Homo sapiens: one gene and its partner. The protein of the gene in region 2 purifies or fractionates together with the protein of the main gene of each other region. This does not show direct contact. Each region holds a gene or a part of one and is shown on either strand. Other genes may lie near its edges.

Evidence for each region. Proteins that work in one complex are often made in the same cells at the same time.
Region 1: the proteins of HEATR5B (region 2) and MON2 purify together in Homo sapiens (affinity purification with mass spectrometry, with the first as the bait; one study listed by BioGRID). This does not show direct contact.

The regions. Positions count from the first base shown.
Region 1 is NC_000012.12:62,595,826-62,598,400, forward strand, and holds part of MON2 (protein MON2 homolog), read left to right. Parts: 3' UTR 1-2,575. UniProt on the Homo sapiens protein: Plays a role in regulating membrane trafficking of cargo proteins. Together with ATP9A and DOP1B, regulates SNX3 retromer-mediated endosomal sorting of WLS away from lysosomal degradation.
Region 2 is NC_000002.12:37,074,373-37,077,872, reverse strand, and holds part of HEATR5B (HEAT repeat-containing protein 5B), read left to right. Parts: intron 1-853; coding exon 854-962; intron 963-2,238; coding exon 2,239-2,388; intron 2,389-3,500.

The DNA of each region.
Region 1 (2,575 bases), on a different chromosome or scaffold from region 2:
TTTTAATTTTATTCACTTAACAGCTAACATCTTTCTTGTTTCTTGTTTTTTCCATTATATGGTTATCGATTCAACTCTTGCTATATTCCTTAAATTTGTATGTATCATCAGAAGAAAGAGATGAACAATTTAGTGTAGATATTTTATTCTGGAGAATAATATTCAATTAAATTATTTCTACAGCAGGCCAGTAACAACTAGATTATTTGTCCTTTCTCAGTATAATTTTAAAGAGCATTTTGTTTTATTGTCACAATTTGGTACCACTAGTCCCAGGTAACCATTGGGCCAAAGGATCAGTTGAGAAACAGTTAAGGATGAATTAGCATAAGTTATGGAACAGTGTTAGAAAACAACTCAAAAGTATATTCTTTATTAATGAGGTGGTCATTATTACATTTGTGTCAATGAAGGGCAGTGTAGTTATTTTAAAATGACTAATATTTTCTCCCCAAATACAGAATAATTCAGATGGGCAACCAAGTTTTCAAGAGACTGCTGTAGGTGAAGTCTGTCTAGCCAAGGCAGAACACTTACAGGAGTCCCTAACTGTGCCACCCTTGGAATGGGTTAGTGTACAGGCTCAGAATATTGTGGATTACAGTTTTTCAGAGAAAACTACCACAGATGTAGACAAAAATGATCTCTGAAAGCATTGCCAGCAGCCAGGTATGTTCCTTAGATTTCCACTTAGGTTTGGCATTTTGGCAGATAAGCTAATCTTGTATAAAGCATCACATTTTACTATGCTTAGTGTTCCTGGGTTGTATTTATCTACATTATTAGAGGGAATTTTTATTTTAAAAAAATTGTCATTCATGAGAAGAATGGGAGTTCATGCCACATAGTATTTTACCAATTTATATAAAGTGGGAAAAGTCTTTAATACTTCATGATCACTTGAATTAAAGTTTTTGTATCTCTGGAAAGTAGAATAGTGCTTTCATTTGAATGAAAAGTGTTTATAGATTCAGAAAGAGAGATGATATCTTTGTATCTTGATTTATATACAGACCATTTCAGAGGAAGTTAAATGTCTTACAAATCCAATACTTTCTAATGCTCTAACAGTGTTGGCTATTTAAAAGAACATGTGGCAAGTTCTATATGAATATTCTTGGTCATCTCGACTAATTCTGAGGCAATGATGGACAGAGATGCTACTTCTTATTTAACTCTAGGCATGTTGACTTTTCAAAGCGGTTTCCTTATTTCTAAACAGAGATGATGATCAATGAGTTACTAATTCTTTAGAGGAAAAAATGCATAATTTGAGTGTGGAGTTGATTTTAATGACAGGGTAATTCAAGTTGTTTGATAAATTTATTACTATATTGTAAGAGAGATCTTTGACCATTTTTCTTCCTTTTTCTTGGACATCACTTTCTTCCCTCCCCTTCTCTCTTTTATGTTTTTATCCTTGTTAAATTTTATGTTTACGTTACCATCTTTCTTATACTTTCCCCTGATTTTTCTCTTTTAATTCCTCTTTCATTCTCTGCCTCTTCTCTTTCAGCTCTTTCTCTAATTGTGCCTATTCCTTGTTCATAAGAAGTGGAGCTGTTAGTGGTAGAACCACTGCTCATGGTTCTACCACTACAAAGTGGAAAGTAGAAATACTTTGCACTTTGGCCACTGTTGCGTTTTTGCCAAGGTAAAGTTCCCCTGCCATTTTGAAATAGCTGAACAAGTTAAAGTAATATGTTCCAAAAACTGGAAGTGCCATAAAAAACTAAAAATAAAAAAAAATTGTGACTATAACTCCTACTGTCTTTATGAATACACGGGATTCAGCAGCCAAGATGCTCACAAAATGGGATTGCTATAAATATGATGGATTCAGCACCTAAATTTGGAATAATCATGTCTTTTCTGTTATGTGGGTAGAGAGATTATATATCTTTTCTCAAAGTAAAGTATTTAAAACCTGTTTAAATGAGGGTTTTGGCTGGCGTGGTGGCCCACACCTGTAATCCCAGCACTTTGGGAAGCCAAGGTGGGAGTATCACTTGAGGCCAGGAGTTTGAGACTAGCCTAGACAACATAGCAAGATCCTATCTCTAGTTCAAAAAAATATTTTTAATTAGGGTTTTGGTTTTTTATGATTTTGGGGGGTGGGGGAGATATTTGTTTTTTTGAGGCAGACGTTTAAACTTTTAGATTTATCCCATCTTAATATTGATTTATATTGACACTGCCTACTTACAAGAATAATTTGAGGCAGCATATTGCCCATGTATTTCAACTATTTTCATTTTTCTGTTGCAAAGCAGTCTTTGATGGAAGACCCGGAATCTTATAGTTCTCATATCTGAGTCTTTCTGGAGTGTATTTGGTGTCTGTGTGATTGGTTCACCCAGAGGTCACCCAGAGGTCAATTGAAACCTTCCTAATTGTACTATGGTATTGATTCTATCCCCTCAAGTATGAAAAAATTAAATTTTCAGACCATTTTCAGTTGCTGCGAATGTAGTTACACTAAGTTTTATTTTAAACTAAAATTCAATAAACAGTGCAGCCAGGGAAGATCTGCTAAACCATGCCGTTATTTGGAAAATCATTGCAATATATTAAC
Region 2 (3,500 bases):
TTACTAATAGTATAGTATTATTTGTAAATTAAGAGGTAGACACTGTGAGCAATGCAAATATGTGAGCTATATTCCGTTTCTGGAGTTTACATTTCCACTGGCAGGACAAGATAGAGACATATAAAATGGTCAAGTTACAACACAGTAAATGATATAATTTTGTCAAAATCAGTGATTGACATTAAGTGTTACATATAATGAAAGAAGAGAGGGATTGTTGAGGCTTGACATAATTTGGAAAGTCTTCATAGAAGCAAAGCTTAGGGGCCGGGCGCTGTGGCTCACGCCTGTAATCCCAACACTTTGGGAGGCCGAGGCAGGCGGATCACCTGAGGTCAGGAGTTCGAGATCAGCCTGGCTAACGTGGTGAAACCCCATCTCTACTGAATATACAAAATGAGCTGGGAATGGTGGCATGCACCTGTAATCCCAGCTACTCAGGAAGCTGAGGCAGGAGAATGGCTTGAACCCAGGAGGCAGAGGTTGCAGTGAACCAGGACCACACCACTGCACTCCAGCGTGGGTGACAGAGTGAGACTTTGTCTCCCCCTAAAAAAAAAAAGAAAAGCTTGGATTTCTTCCCAAAGAATGGGTATGATTTATTATGTACATATATAGATTCTTTTGTATTCCTAACAAGAATACAATTTAACTATAGTATTTAACAAGAATACAGTGTAAATAGAGTATAGTATTTGTTGCAGTTATGAAGCATAAATTGTTTTTGATAGTTGAAATTAAGGATTATAGCCAAAAGTGTCCTAGACAAATGCAAATTGATTTCTAAAAATGAGAAAAGTATAATTGTATCATTAACCTGGACAATGACTAGTGAAGTTGTCACTTCTTACAGGGCTGCGGTGGCTTGTGTCGGAGCATTTTATGAAAAAATGGGGAGAATGTTGGGCAGCGCATTTCCAGAAACGGTAAATAATCTATTGAAATCTCTGAAAAGTGCAGAGGTAAGTTTTACAACCAATATTATTTGAATATTTGCTTGTGGCAAGAGTTAGATGTCAGCTAAAATATGTTTGTTTCTTTTTCTGTCACTGTGGTCTCATATTGCTTAGCAAGGAGGTAATTACAAATTATTACTTGTCCCTTCTTTTAATGTATATCAGGGGGAAGGGAAAGAATGCTTTTCTTTGACAAGGAATAGGTTTACTTGTTATTTTTTATTTAGTCCTATGGTACTTTTGGATTGGCTTTTTTTTTTTTCTTTTTTTTGGTGCCATAGCTAATGTGTTAATTTCCTGGTTACTGTAATAAATTACCTTAGACTGGGTGGCTTAAAACAACAACAATTTATTGTCTCACAGTTCTGGAAGCTGGAGGTCTGCGATAAAGTGTCAGCAAGGCCATGTTTCCACTGAAGGATCTAGGGAAGAATGTTTCCTTTCCTTCTTACCTTCTAGTGGTTGCTGGAAATCTTTGATCTTCCCTGGCTTGTAGATGCATCTCTCCCATCTCTGTCTCCTTTGTCACATCACCTTTTTCCTGTCCCTTTGTGTTTTGTGTCTAAATTATTTCCCTGTTCAGTGATACCAGTCATTGGATTAGAATTGGATACCTTTTCTGGGAACTATTTGTCTATTCATTCATTAAAAAAGAATTGAGGACTTATTATTTGTCAGGCATTAAACATACAAAGATGGTCCTGACCTCAAAGAACTTACAGTTTAGTGGAAGAGAGCTAAGTGTGAATAAGCATTGTGATACACTGTGATGAGTATACTATCAGAAATAACAATAAGCACTATGAGAATATGGATATAACAGTTTGAGTTAGTCACAAGAAGATGAAGGTTTGCTGTATTTCTGACATGTTTTTTTAAATGTGTTGGATGTTTTCTGCTTCCTTTTTTGGATCATTTATATATTATTTCTCAACTTTTTTACTTAATATTTTACGTTCTGAAATATTTTATATATTGAGATATGATATTGAAGCTTTTGAATCTCTTCATGTTTTCATTATATTGTATGTACTTCAGTAATTCATAGAAATATTGGAATATATTTACTTAAAACCTAATTTTTTAGAAAGATATTATTTAATTGACTATTCTTACTTGCCAGGTACTTTCTAGAATACTTAATTTTATTGTACTTTTCATTATTTACCGTTTATAATTTGGAGGTAAGACCATTAGACCCAAAGAACTTTTGTCTTGGTGTGTTCTTGTTTAAATATGGAATTTATTTTACAAAATAGTTTTGTTTTGTATACATGTCTAGTCTCAAGGGCGAAGTGAAATCTTAATGAGTCTACAGAAAGTTCTAAGTGGACTGGGTGGTGCAGCAGCTTCCTCCCATCGTGATATTTACAAGAATGCCAGGTCTCTCTTGACTGATAGGTCAATGGCTGTTCGATGTGCAGTGGCCAAGGTTAGTACTCGACCAATTTAGAATACTGCTCTTTATCCTTCTTGCTCTTAAACAGTCAACGATTTTTTTTTCTTTTAAAATTTTAAATTATGTTTTGTGTTCCAATGGATTAGTTTCATTTTCTAGAATTATATATAATAGTATCACATCATGAGATGTACTTTTGTGTATGTGTATTCTGGCTTCTTTCACTTAGTATAATTGTTTTGAAATTCATTTATGTTGTTATATGTATCCATAGTTCATTCCTTTTTATTGCTGAGTAGTATTTCATTGTATGGATATGTCACATTGATTTGTTCACTCACCTGTTATAAACATTTGAGTTGCTTCTAGTTTTGATTATTACAAAAAAACTGCTGTGAACATCTGTATATAAGTTTTTGCACAAACATATGCTTTCATTTCACTTCCGCAAATAACCTAGGGATGGAATAGCTGGTTCATAGGGCAGATTTAGTTTAACGTTCAGAAAAGTACAAAACTGTTTTCCAAAGTACTCGTGCCATTCTGCATTTCTACTAGCAGTGTATGAGAATTTCTCTTCCTTCATATCATCACCATTGTTTGTTACTGACAGTCTTTTTAATTTAAGCCATTCTAATGGATACATATGTCATTGTATCTCATATCTCAATGGTATCTCATTGTGGCTTTAATTTGCATTTCCGTGATGACTAATGATAAGCATATTTTCAGGTGCTTATTTGCCATCCATATCTTCTTCGAAGAAGGATGTGCTCAATCTTTTGTCCATTGTTTTATTGGGTTGTTTTATAATTATTGACTTTTGAGAGTGTTTTATAGGTTTTTTACATATTCCTTTATCAGATATGTGATTTACAAATATTTTTCCCAATGGGTGGCCTGTCTCTTTATTCTCTAAACAGTGCCTTGTAAGGAAAAGAGATTTTGAATTTCATCCAGTGTATCAATTTTTCTTATATGGATTGTGCTTTTGGTGTTGTATCTAAGGAAACATTTCGTAAACCAGGGTTTGTCCTGTGTTTCCTTCTAGAAGTTTTATAGTTTTATACTTAGATATGTGATCCATTTTGAGTTAATTTTTGTATATGTTGCAAGGTTTGAATCAAAATTTTTTGTTTTTTTTT